Linked DNA regions of Homo sapiens: regions 2 and 3 are each linked to region 1. The links come from fine-mapping of genetic effects on gene expression. A gene starts in region 1. Each other region holds a variant in brackets. All regions are shown on one strand. Distances are from middle to middle. Region 1 holds the start of CTSK (cathepsin K). Region 2 overlaps SETDB1 (SET domain bifurcated histone lysine methyltransferase 1). Region 3 overlaps CTSS (cathepsin S).

The links. PIP is the estimated chance that this variant, and not a neighbour inherited with it, causes the effect. A credible set is the group of variants that fine-mapping cannot tell apart.
Region 2: its variant is the best candidate, but not a certain one, in a credible set for the expression of CTSK in whole blood (INTERVAL, PIP 0.76).
Region 3: its variant is the best candidate, but not a certain one, in a credible set for the expression of CTSK in whole blood (TOPMed, PIP 0.69).

The regions. Positions count from the first base shown.
Region 1 is chr1:150,806,344-150,810,574 of GRCh38, reverse strand. It overlaps CTSK (cathepsin K), which reads left to right and starts at 2,315. Exons shown (of 8, transcript NM_000396.4): 1 at 2,315-2,361; 2 at 3,769-3,889. The coding sequence starts at 3,770. ARNT (aryl hydrocarbon receptor nuclear translocator) reads left to right here. Exons shown (of 22, transcript NM_001668.4): 22 at 1-862.
Region 2 is chr1:150,945,924-150,950,164 of GRCh38, reverse strand. SETDB1 (SET domain bifurcated histone lysine methyltransferase 1) reads right to left here. Exons shown (of 22, transcript NM_001366418.1): 10 at 3,153-3,279; 11 at 887-1,043; 12 at 640-798. Among named protein-coding and RNA genes, the nearest start is that of SETDB1, 22 kb to the right of the region's middle. RefSeq lists a cis regulatory region at 129 and an enhancer at 57-201. The variant G/T (reference allele first, on the strand shown) is at 2,056.
Region 3 is chr1:150,749,764-150,754,004 of GRCh38, reverse strand. It overlaps CTSS (cathepsin S), which reads left to right. Exons shown (of 8, transcript NM_004079.5): 5 at 1,997-2,224; 6 at 3,834-3,999. Among named protein-coding and RNA genes, the nearest start is that of CTSS, 14 kb to the left of the region's middle. The variant C/T (reference allele first, on the strand shown) is at 1,950.

The DNA.
Region 1 (4,231 bases):
ATGTAGTCATAGGGGACTGAGGAGCAAGGGTGGCCTTGAAGAGGCCAAAGGAATGTCCATTTGCTGAGTTTCCCTTCCTTATGTCTCCAGTCTGGTGCCAGGTAGTGGAGTAAAAAAGGAGACAGTTTATTTTTTTATTCTATGTGCACACTTACAGTATACATATATATTTATATCACAATTTACGAAACCAAAAAGTTGAGTTTCCAATGGAACCCTTGTTTTTTAATAATCGACTTTTTAAATGTGATCAGGACTATAATATTGTACAGTTATTATAGGGCTTTTGGGGAAGGGGAGGATAGCGAGAAGATGCTCTGGGGGTTTTGTTTTTGCTTTTCCTTCAGGGTTTTATTTTTGACTGTTTTGTTTTCTTGTTGGCCATTTCTGTATTGCTGGCATCTGTGCTAAGCTTTACAGTGGCAAAAATAATGACATGTAGCAAAGATTTTCAAACAAAATATTTTTTCCTTTTGTAAAATTTCTTGTGTTGTGTGATCTTGATTGCGGCTTTATCATTCCTTTCCAGTTCATAAACAACAGGCACCCACAACCAGAGGAATCTATAGTTTAAGCTCCAGACATACAAACATAAGGCACATTGTGTCTTTAATTTCAGGAATCAGAAATCATAGGGTTCTGATCACATTGCACGCCTCCCCCCTCACTTGTCCTCCTGATCCTGACACATTCTGAGTAACATCAGCAGGAATGCTCTGACCATGAGGTGGGGGTTTTGGGGTGGGCGTTGCCTGGGTTCTTGGGAGAGAGGGGAAGAGTCGGGACTTGAAAACCACTAGGGCACATCTGGATGCCTTCCCCCAGTATGTCCTTTTCTGGATTAAAATGAGTGAAATTTAAACTGTTCAAGTCTGGACCTGGTTTCCCTCTAGGAGACTATGTTGGTTCATTAGCAACTTTTTTTTTTTTTTTTTTTTTTGTGTGTGTGTGTGTGTGTGTGTGTGAGAGATGGAGTCTCGCTCTGTTACCCAGGCTGGAGTGCAGTGGCACGATCTTGGCTCACTGCAACCTCTGCCCCTTGGGTTCAAGCAATTCTCCTGCCTCAGCTTCCCAAGTAGCTGGCACTACAGGTGTGTGCCACCATGCCCAGCTAATTTTTGTGTTTTTTTTTTTTAGTAGAGATGGGGTTTCACTATATGTTGGCCAGGCTAGTCTCGAACTCCTGACCTTAGGTGATCCACATGCTTTGGCCTCCCAAAGGCCTGGGATTACAGGCGTGAACCACTGCGCCTAGCCTGTTAGCAGCTCTTAAAATCCAGAGGCATAAGCCTGTATTTTTGAGGGTTTATGCATGGAATCCAGCTAGAAACTGAGTCTATTACAGATCCCATTTATTATCCTTTCTATTCCAAGAAGCCTTTTTTTCTCCTTCCCCACATCTGTTTATGGAAGAAAATGAAGTTTGGGGTGTGGTTTGAGGAATCAGCTAGATTCTTATGATCTGTCACATGCTTGGATGTTGGGGAAGCATTTGGAGAAGCTCATGTGACTTGTCCTAGATTGGGGATTTTAATTGAGACAGATGATGTTTATCGGGCATCCCACCACCTGAGAGTTTTAGCAACAGAGTCACATGTGAGTCCATCAGAACTTACGGCATTGATTCAAGTGCTGTCATAAATAACCAGGACTGCTGTTTTTGGTTACTTTTAAAGACAGTTTCATCTGGACTTTCTGGGCATATCCTCCTTCAGCAAAACCACATTAGGCTGGGAAAACTATTCTGCCTGGAAGTAATGACAACTTGCAACCAACAAGCTTATAAAAATACAAAGAATTCTGGAGCCTATGGCTTCCATTACATTATTCTTTTATAGCCTTTTATGTTCATTACCGCATCCCAGAGGTGAGAGTCAGACACAAATATGAAAATAGGTTTCAATGTTGGAGAGGTAAATCCTAACAGGAAAGGGGTAGGAAAAGATATAATCCCCCAATATTAAAATAAAGATATTGAAGAAGAAGGATGGGAGAGACTAGGGCTGTGTCCTTCCTTTTACTCACCAAAAGAGAAAGTAAGCTCCTATTTGAGTCAATAGATATTGAGGTCTTGTTATTTGCCACCAAAGACAGTCTTGTGAGACTAAATAGCTAGTAATTCCCTACCCTGGCACACATGCTGCATACACACAGAAACACTGCAAATCCACTGCCTCCTTCCCTCCTCCCTACCCTTCCTTCTCTCAGCATTTCTATCCCCGCCTCCTCCTCTTACCCAAATTTTCCAGCCGATCACTGGAGCTGACTTCCGCAATCCCGATGGAATAAATCTAGCACCCCTGATGGTGTGCCCACACTTTGCTGCCGAAACGAAGCCAGACAACAGATTTCCATCAGCAGGTAACGTTTGCAACTTCCTAGATCTTTTAGCTTTTCATTCCTGTCAATTCTCTGAGTATTAGGGATGTAGTGACTTGAGGATCACAATAAACTTTTAGCCTCTGCAGATGAAAACAGAGATGCACTTCTTAGGTCATTCCCTGGCTAAATAAAATCTGCCTGGAAATCTGTAGAATTCCTTGTATGATTTATATATATACATACATGATTGTTAGTAAAAGCAAAGTATATAGGGAATCATTTCCCCATCCTTCAAGAGTGGCCTTTCTGCAGTGTTTTCTACTTTGGCCAACAAGGATCAAAACGGTTAACTCCTTAGTGAGGAGGAGGAGAGTGGTATGGGGAGGTAGTAGCTCAGTGCTTCCTGTTCACTGAGACATCTCAAAGCCCTTAACACTCTAGTTTTTAAATGTCCTACTGGACATTTTGCCAGTTTGCAAAATTACATGTAAATGGACTATAAGCAATTGTGTAAGCCATATGTCATGCTGCAGGCTGCAAATTGTTCTTAAAATGGAGGATTTGTAATTAAGAAAGCCAATGCAAGAAATGAGTGAAGCTAACTAGAGTAAACTTATGAAAAGCTGTGAATTTCATCATCATAGAACATTGCTTTTCAGTCTGAACATTCTTCTAACAAACCTTGGATCTGAGGCTTCTTGTCCTTTGCGGCAGCCACAGTGGGTTTTTGTTGTTAGGGGAAAAATAAAAAACCTTGCCCGCAGCATCTGGTTAAGATTAGGGCAGTTTCCTGCCTAAGGAGGGAAGGGAGAGAAAAAGGAAGAAGAAATGCATAAGGAGAATGAGGAGATATACAATGTCTCAGAAAACAGGAAACATTGTCCTATTTTCCCTTGTCCTCTTCTGACAAGATCTGGGAAAGTACCAGAATTTAGGCACGAAAGAGAAGAACGCCTCGAAGAAATGATCAGGAGGCAAAACTTAGACGGAAATCTCTCCTTTGTGTATTCTGAACCCCACTACCACCTTGCTATTTGTCTGTCTCCAAGCCTGCTAGGGACCCTGGAGGAAACGCACTGAGCCCATTCTGATTGTCCAGTTTCTATCCCCCATTTCTGGTTGTGTACGTGTGTGTGTGTGTGTGTGTGTGTGTGTGTGTGTGTGTGTGTGTGAGAGAGAGAGAGACAGAGAGAGAAACAGAGAGAGTGTGTGTTGCCTAAATCTCCCGAGAGAGAGAGAGAGAGAGAAAGAGAGAAATGGCTAAATCCCCCTAGATCAAAGTCCTTGGAACCAGATGTACCAGCATCCTATCTAAACACAGGCCCCTCCTGACTATCATTGTTTTATCACCCTTTTTCCGTCTACCTTTCTCTTCCTCATAAAGCCTAGTTTTCCTCTGTTTCCCTGCCAAATGGAAGAGTTTTCCCTAACTACATTCTTCTGCAGGATGTGGGGGCTCAAGGTTCTGCTGCTACCTGTGGTGAGCTTTGCTCTGTACCCTGAGGAGATACTGGACACCCACTGGGAGCTATGGAAGAAGACCCACAGGAAGCAATATAACAACAAGGTGCCTGGGGTCCTGGAGGGGGCATGGCAGGAAGGCTGAGACCTGAGCTCTCTCATCTTAGCTTCCAGACTCCCTTCTTCAATCCAAATGCTTTATTCCAAGCAAATCAGTCCCTCTTCCCTAACTCATGTTAACATACGGTTTTCATTCCTATGCTTCAAATCATCCTCTGTCAAACTGTATCCTTCCTTTGCTTTATAAGTGTGTTACATTTCTCTTTTGGGAAGAGTTCTAAGATTAATGCTGTTAATCTATAAGCAATTTTTCTGTCTCTCCAGAGCTTTGTGTTGTATTTGTTTACATATTATCTCTTCTTGCAGGCTCTTAATTCCATGGTTAGTT
Region 2 (4,241 bases), 140 kb before region 1:
CCTCCTGGGTTCAAGCGATTCTCCTGCCTCAGCGTCCTGAGTAGCTGGGATTACAGGCATGCGCCACCACGCCTGGCTAATTTTGTATTTTTTAGTAGAGACAGGGTTTCTCCATGTTGGCCAGGCTGGTCTCGAACTCCCGACCTCAGGTGATCCACCCGCCTCGGCCTCCCAAAGTGCTGGGATTACAGGCATGAGCCACCGCGCCCGGCCTAACATCTCTATTTCAACAGTATACCTTTTCCTAAAATGTATTTGCCTGTGAATTATGGAAGTAGAATCCAGTCTTCTACCAATGTTTTTTTGGTCTGCTGCGTGTTCTAAAAATGTCCTTACTAACTCCAAGGAAAGAGGCTGTGGTGTTTCCTTTCTATTTTAGCAATGATGGCACCATGTTCAACAAGAAGTTTTAACAAATGGCTTTCAGATGATACCATATTTCCAAGCACCCAGCTTCCAATTCAATTATTCTTACTTTCTATTTCTTAGGAACTTCTATGGGTAAAGCTTCCTTTTCAAGTCCAAACTCCTCACTATCATAAGCTTAAACTAAGCCCTTCGCTTACAGCCAAGGAACCTTCCCCTACACAGTGACCACTCATTGCTATCCTGCCTACAGAGAGCCTCAGATTTTCTCACCTATATGTCTGGTTGATCCCAGGTTTCCCACCAGAGACATTTTCACTGAGTGCAGGAGATGTAGGGGAGGAATGACCAGAGCCCACAGATCCTGGTCGAAAGGACGTGCTCTTTTTGGCTACCTGCTTCCGTGACTGGGCAAGCTGGCTTTCCAAGCTTCTAGGAGATTAGAGAAGAGGGCATATAGTAAGGGATGTGGAAAATATAATATGAAAGAAACTGAAGAAAAAGAAAGAATAACACTCACTCACTGTCACCTGCTTGGGGGGATAGAGGTGGAGCAGGTGGGAAAGGTGGGGCAGGTGGAGCTGTAGGCTGTGGGGGTTCCACTGGCTTGAACTGGGTTCCAGTACCGGTCAGATCCTGTGTGTACTGGACAACAGGGCCTTTGCTCCTCACAGCACCTATAGGAAAAAGGAAATTGAGCACTGAGAAGATGATAGCTATGACGCTTGTATTCAGTCACACATCTGATCCTTAACTTATACAATATAAAAAGGAAGCAATGGCTGGGCGCAGTGGCTCTTGCCTGTAATCCCAGCAGTTTGGGAGGCCGAAGTGGGCAGGTTGCTTGAGGTCATGAGTTTGAGACCAGCCTGGCCAACATGGTGAAACCCCGTCTCTACTAAAAATACAAAAATTAGATGGGCATGGTGGTGCACATCTGTAATTCCAGCTGCTCGGAAGGCGCAGGACAATCACTTGAAACCAGGAGGTGGAGGTTGCAGTGAGCCGAGATCACATCACTGTACTCCAGCCTGGGCAACAGAACAAGACTTCGTCTCAAAAAAAAAAAGCAGCAATGGACACATTTTGAGTAAGTGCTTAGACTCTCAGTTCCCATTATTGACTGGCATGGACGCTGGCATACATTGTTTTTTGACTTAGATAATACTTTTTCTTTTATTAAAGTGAAAGCAAGTTTATTCACAAAGTAAAGGAATAAAAGAATAACGGCCAGGCGCGGTGGCTCATGCCTTTAATCCCAGCACTTTGGGAGGCTGAGGCGGGCAGATCACCTGAGGTCAGGAGTTCAAGACCAGCCTGGCCAACATGGAGAAATCCCGTCTCTACTAACAATACAAAAATTAGCCTGGCATGGTAGCAGTCGCCTGTAACCCCAGTTACTCGGAAGGCTGAGGCAGGAGAATTGCTGGAACCCGGGAGGCGGAGGTTGCAGTGAGCTGAGATGGTGCCACTGCACTCCAGCCTGGGCAAAAGAACCAGACTCCATCTCAAAAAAAAAAAAAAAAAATTGCTACTCTGTCGGCAGAGTAGCCTCTTTTTTTTCTTTTTATAGACAGTGTTCCACTTTGTTACTCAGGCTGAAGTGCAGCGGTGTGACCTTAGCTCATTGTAACCTTGAAATCCTGGGCTTCAAGCAATCCTCCTGCCTCAGCCTCCAGAGTAGCTAAG[G/T]CTACAGGTGCACACCACCACACTCAGCATTTTTTTTTTTTAAGAGATAAGAGTCTTTCTATGTTGCCCAGACTGATCTCCAACTCCTGGCCTCAAGTGATACTCCCACCTCAGCCTCCCAAAGTGCTGAGACTACAGACACGAGCCACCATGCTGGGCCTTAGATAAGACTTTATATCTTCCTATCTCAGATGATTTACCTAATTATGTTATACTTTGGGGAAATATTTTCAGAAATATATTCTTTAACCAACTAATTTTGGCAGGAAAAATCAACCAGAAAGTATGACAGTAATATTAAAAAAGAAAACCAAATCTGTTTTTTGTTTGTTTCTGAGACAGGGTCTCGTTCTGTCACCCAGGCTGGAGTGCAGTGGCACGATCTAGCTCACTGCAACCTCGACCTCCTGGCTTCAATTGATCCTCCCACCTCAACTTCTTGAGTAGCCTGGACTACAGCTTAATGCCACTGTACCCAGCTAATTTTTGTGTTTTTTTGTAGAAACAGGGTTTCACCATGTTGCCCAGGCTGGTCTTGAATTCCTCAGCTCAAGCAAACCACCTACCTGTCTCAGCTTCCTAAAGTGTTGGGATTATAGATGTCAGCCACTGTGCCTGGCCAGGTCTGGGTTTTAAAGAAAACTGACTATACGCTGGATGTGGTAGCTCATACTTGTAATCCTAGCACTTTGGGCAGCCGAGGCAGGTAGACAGCTTGAGCCCAGGAGTTCAAGACCAGCCTGGGTAACATATCAAGCCCCGGGTCTATTTAAAAAAAAAAGAAAAAGAAAAAACTAACCATAGATAACACACAAAACTGACAATTCTCATGTGGATAACAGAGGGTAACTACTATCACCCTAACCTAAAGCCAACTGTTTCAGATTTTTATGTGGTTGTTTAGAACAAATTAGAGCCACAGCATGTGGAAGCAGCAGCACAAATTGATCACCATGATTGGAAACAACTCAGGGCACATATCCTGTTTCCAATGAGTATACAGTGTAACCATGCTAATCAAAGGATAGCCATTGTATATAATCTCCTTTGCTGGTTGGCCTGTTTCTTCCTTCCTCCAGGAATCTTTCAGGACATACCCATATTTGGACGTGTCCTGAGCTGTCCTTGCTTCTTCTCCAGTGCAGAGGCTGAGGATGTTTTCATGCTGAACATGGGCTCCAGCCGTGTAGAGCCTCGATAGATCCACTCACATCTTTTGTCATCCTGGGGAATTGAGAGAAAAGAATGAAGGGAAATAGCTTAAAGGCTAGAATCTATCCTGTCCTGTGTAGAGGATATATACCATGTGTCACCTCTGGGAATCCTCCCTGATGAGCCTTAAATTCCTTAGTCTAAGCTAAGCACAGTGGCTCACGCCTGTAGCTTGTAATCCCAGCACTTTGGGAGGCTGAGGCAGGTGGATCACCCGAGGTTGGGAGTTCAAGACCAGCCTGACCAACATGGAGAAACCCCGTCTCTACTAAAAATACAAAATTAGCCGGGTGTGGTGGCGCATGCCTGTAATCCCAGTTACTCGGGAGGCTGAGGCAGGAGAATTGCTTGAACCAGGGAGGCGGAGGTTGTGGTGAGCCGAGACTGCACCATCGTACTCCAGCCTGGGCAACAGGAGCGAAACTCCATCCCCCCCAAAAAAAAATTCCTTATCTACTTAATAAAGTATGTGCCAGGATCCATGATGGGTATCAGGAACACAACAATGAAAAATATATACTCCTTGTTTAAGGAATTACAGGAGCAACAGATATCTATACTGAGTATAAGAGGTATGACAGCTGGGCACAATAGCTCACACCTATAATCCTGGTATGTCGAAAGGATGAGGCAGACAGACTGCTTGAGCTCAGGAGTTCGAGACCAGCCTGGGCAACATGGCGAAACCCGTCTCTACTAAAAATACAAAAATCAGCCAGGTGTGGTGGCATGCACTTGTAGTCACAGCTACTTGGGAGGCTGATGTGGGAGGACCACTTGAACCCTGGAGGTTGAGGCTGCAGTGAGCTGTGATTGCACCACTGCACTCCAGCCTGGGTGGCAGAGTGAGACTGTCTCAAAAAACAAAACAAAACAAAACAAAACAAAACAAAACAGGCCAGGCGTGGTGGCTCACGCCTGTAATCCCAGCACTTTGGGAGGACAAGGCAGGTGGATCACTTGAGGTCAGGAGT
Region 3 (4,241 bases), 57 kb after region 1:
TGGATACTGAGGGACAACTGGATTCTCCACAGTGGTTTTTGTTTTGTTTTGTTTTGTTTTGTTTGAGACAGGGTCTCCCTCTGTTGCCCAGGCTGGACTGCAGTGGTGCGATCTGGGCTCACTGCAACCTCTGCCTCTTGGGCTCAAGTGATCCTCCCATCTCAGCCTACACGGTGACTACAGGCACACACCACCACTTTTTTTTTCTTTGTATTTTTAGCAGAGATGGGTTTTGCCATGTTGCCCAAGCTGATCTCAAGCTCCTGAGCTCAAGTGATCCTCCTACCTCCACCTCCCAAAGTCCTGGGATTATAGGCATGAGCCCTCGTGTTCAGCCCCCACAGTGCTTTTCTAAGTGATCATAGAGCCACCTACTTAGACAAACACTGAACTAAGCAAATAGGTGTTTAACACAGACTTTTATTGCTCACGCTATGCATTGACTGCACTGGACTCTCCAATAAGCCAATTGCTTGAGAAGCAGTGTTGTGTGAGAGAGCCCTGGTGATCAGGAAGTTTCTCCATTTCACTTGTGAGTTTCAAAGTTGAAGGAGAAGAAAGAACTAGAGATAGAGTGTTCTATAAATTGAGCCACTCAAGTTAATTCATGGCTAGTCTTGCATCGTTAGAATATGAAATATGTGCCTTGTAAAATTATTGTTCCTATGCTGTTGTATTTTCCTTTAGTTTGCTTGTTTTAAAAAAATTGCAAAAATCCTAAATTAGTTAGAGGTAAAACACATGTATCACCATAGAGGTCAGGGTAAGTGAGAGGAATCAAAGCATTCTGAGCAGCTACCCCAGGTTGTGATCAATGAAGAAAGTAAAAATTTATTAGGAAGTAAATGGTGGCCAGGCACAGTGGCTCACATCTGTGATTCCAGCACTTTGGGAGGCAGAGGCAGAAGGATCGCTTGAGCCCAGGAGTTAGAAACCAACCTAGGCAATATAGTGAGGCCCTGACTCTACAAAAAATAAAAATAAAAATTAGCCAGGCATGGTGCGCTCCTGTAGTCCCAGCTACTTGAGGGGCTGAGATGGGAGGATCGCTTGAGCCTGGGAGGTTGAGGCTACAGTGAGCCATGATCACACCACTGCACTTCAGTCTGAGTGACAGAAGGAAACCCTGTCTCAAAACAAACAAACAAAAAGAAGTAAATGGTACTGCTAATCTCTTATTCTTTTCCACCTACATATTTTTCTTTCAATTAGTTTTGGATTTCTTACCCGAGGTTCTCTAAAATAACAGCTTTTAGAAGACCCAATAAACCACATATTTAGATGTTAACTCTGAGTAAGTTAATGAGCTCCTTTCTCTGGGTGCTTGCATTTTAATGAACAATTTTGCTTCAATCAAAAGCAATGTCAGTTTGCTTCCTTTTGGTGGAGAGCAAGGTGGGAGGAGGGAAGGAGAGAGAAAGAGAACAATTATGATGGGGCTCTGGACACTCTGCCCCTTTTAAAACTAAAGCAGCTTTGCCTTTTTTTGTTTGTTTATGCCTCCTTGTAAAATATTTTTTAATCAAAAAAATTCTGAAGATAACAAAGGTTTGAAAAATGCCAACCTAGGATTAAACTTCTTATGTTTCAGGCATCATATGACAGGAGAAAGGGTATTTTAGGTCAAGGAAATCATCCTAGCTCTCTCAAAATCTCATTACTGTAGGCAACTATCTCCCTTACTTATGGGTGAAAATAGGTGCAATTTGGTACATGCTCAGTGAGTATTGTTTCTAAGTATATTTGAATATGGCCATTATGTTCTGAGCTTGGCTGATTGCAAATCTCTATCAAGGTTGGACCTTGCCTAGATAACAATTGAGTTAAATTTAGTCTTCATTCCCATTGTTAAAGACAGAAGGAAACTGTAGTGGGGGAGCTCTTTCTGGGAACTAGGGACAGAACTGATGTAGCTGAGCGTTGTCCAGTTTGGGTTATGGAAGTCATTC[C/T]GAATGATTTTCTGTGATTTGCGTTTGTGACCTTGTATCTGTTTTAGGGTTCTTGTGGTGCTTGCTGGGCTTTCAGTGCTGTGGGGGCCCTGGAAGCACAGCTGAAGCTGAAAACAGGAAAGCTGGTGTCTCTCAGTGCCCAGAACCTGGTGGATTGCTCAACTGAAAAATATGGAAACAAAGGCTGCAATGGTGGCTTCATGACAACGGCTTTCCAGTACATCATTGATAACAAGGGCATCGACTCAGACGCTTCCTATCCCTACAAAGCCATGGTGCGTCTTAAGCAAACTTTTTGTGCTGCCCCATGATCTCATGTTATCCACTGACTGACTGTGCTGGGCTTGCCACCATGCCAATTGCTTGAGAAGCAGTATTGTGTGTGAGAGAGAACCCTGAAGAGGAATTCTTAAATTCTCAAGAGTTCTGTTTCTGATGAAGTACTCTTCTTAATATATCAGTAGTACAAATAAGGAAGTAGCATTCATGCTTAAAAACAGATTTTAATGACTGGGCGTAGTGGCTCATACCTATAATCTCAGCACTTTGGAAGGCCGAGGTGGGTGGATCACCTGAGGTCAGGAGTTTGAGACCAGCCTGGCCAACGTGGTGAAACCCTGTCTCTACCAAAAATACAAAAATTAGCCAGGCATGGTGGTGCATGCCTGTGGTCCCAGCTACTCGGGAGGCTGAAGCAGGAGAATCGCTTGAACTCAGGAGGTGGAGGTGCAGTGAGCCGAGATCACGCCACTGTACTCCAGCCTCGGCAACGGAGCAAGACTCCATCCCAAAATTAAACAGATTTTAAGCAAACTATCCTTAAAATTATTTCTCTGTATTTAAACTTTTTCTTCTGCAGCCTCCCATGCTCAACCTTATTCTCAGATCATTAACCACATCATTCTTCCACCCACTGAGAAGCTAAATAACACTCTCCTCTTCCTCAGAAATTCATTATACATTTTGATATAACGATAACCTAAGGATTGTGTCCATGTTACAGAAGATTTTAAAAATATAAAAATATCACTCAAAAACCTTCTACCTTAACCACTATTGTTTTGGTTTATTTCTTTCAAGTTATTTTCTTGTTAAGCACTTAAAAAACATAGTTGGCCAAGTGTGGTGGCTCACACCTGTAATGTCAGCACTTTGGGAGGTCGAGGTGGGAGGATTGCTTGAGCTCAAGAGTTTGAGACCAGCCTGTGCAACATAGTGAGACCTCACCTCTACTAAAAATCAAAAAAATTAGCCAGGCATGGTGGTGCACACCTGAGTAGCAGTTCCAGCTACTCAGGAAGCTGAGGTGGGAGAATCACTTGGCCCAGGAGTTGGAGGCTGCAGTGAGCCATGATTATGCTACTGCACTCCAGCCTGGACAATGGAGTGAGAGCCTATCTCAAAAAAATAAATAATATAAATAAATACAAAATAGTTGTATATACAACAAACATGAATTTGTAACTTTCCTTTTCCCACTTGAAATACTTGTGTTTCCCATATTATATGGTCTTTATATACCATCATTTTAGCTGCAGATCATCTTGCAGGCATCAAAAAGATTTTAAAGCTCTCATCTAGAGTTTATTATCTCTATGTAATATTTCCCTACAGTCCACCTGAAAGTCTGAGGGGCCATTGTCCTGGCAAGTTTTGCATGTATGAGGATGTTCACAATTTGAAAGAATAGAATAGTTCTGTATTTCCTCCATTATTGCTGAAACCCGGGACTGTTAGGATTTGGAAGATTTGCAAAGGAAGGAGCCTTAGACACATGAAAAAGTTAAAGAAAGGAAGGGAGACATTTAAAATCCAGGCTTAGGATACAGGTGATTTATACAGGAGTTGAAGTATACTTCATCATATTTATACTTCTTTTTGCAGGATCAGAAATGTCAATATGACTCAAAATATCGTGCTGCCACATGTTCAAAGTACACTGAACTTCCTTATGGCAGAGAAGATGTCCTGAAAGAAGCTGTGGCCAATAAAGGCCCAGTGTCTGTTGGTGTAGATGCGCGTCATCCTTCTTTCTTCCTCTACAGAAGTGGTAAAAAATAAAATAAACAATAATTAGAATTTAAAGAAAGAAAGAAAGGATATTGGCTGAGCACGGTGGTTCATGCCTGTAATTCTAGCTTTGGAGGCTGAGGTGGGAGGATTGCTTGAGCCTGGGAGTTTGACACCAGCCTGAGCAACATCGCGAGACCCTTATCTCTACGAAAAATAAAAATAAAAATTAGCCGGATATGGTGACACTCACTTGTAGTCTCAGCTACTTGGGAGGGTGAG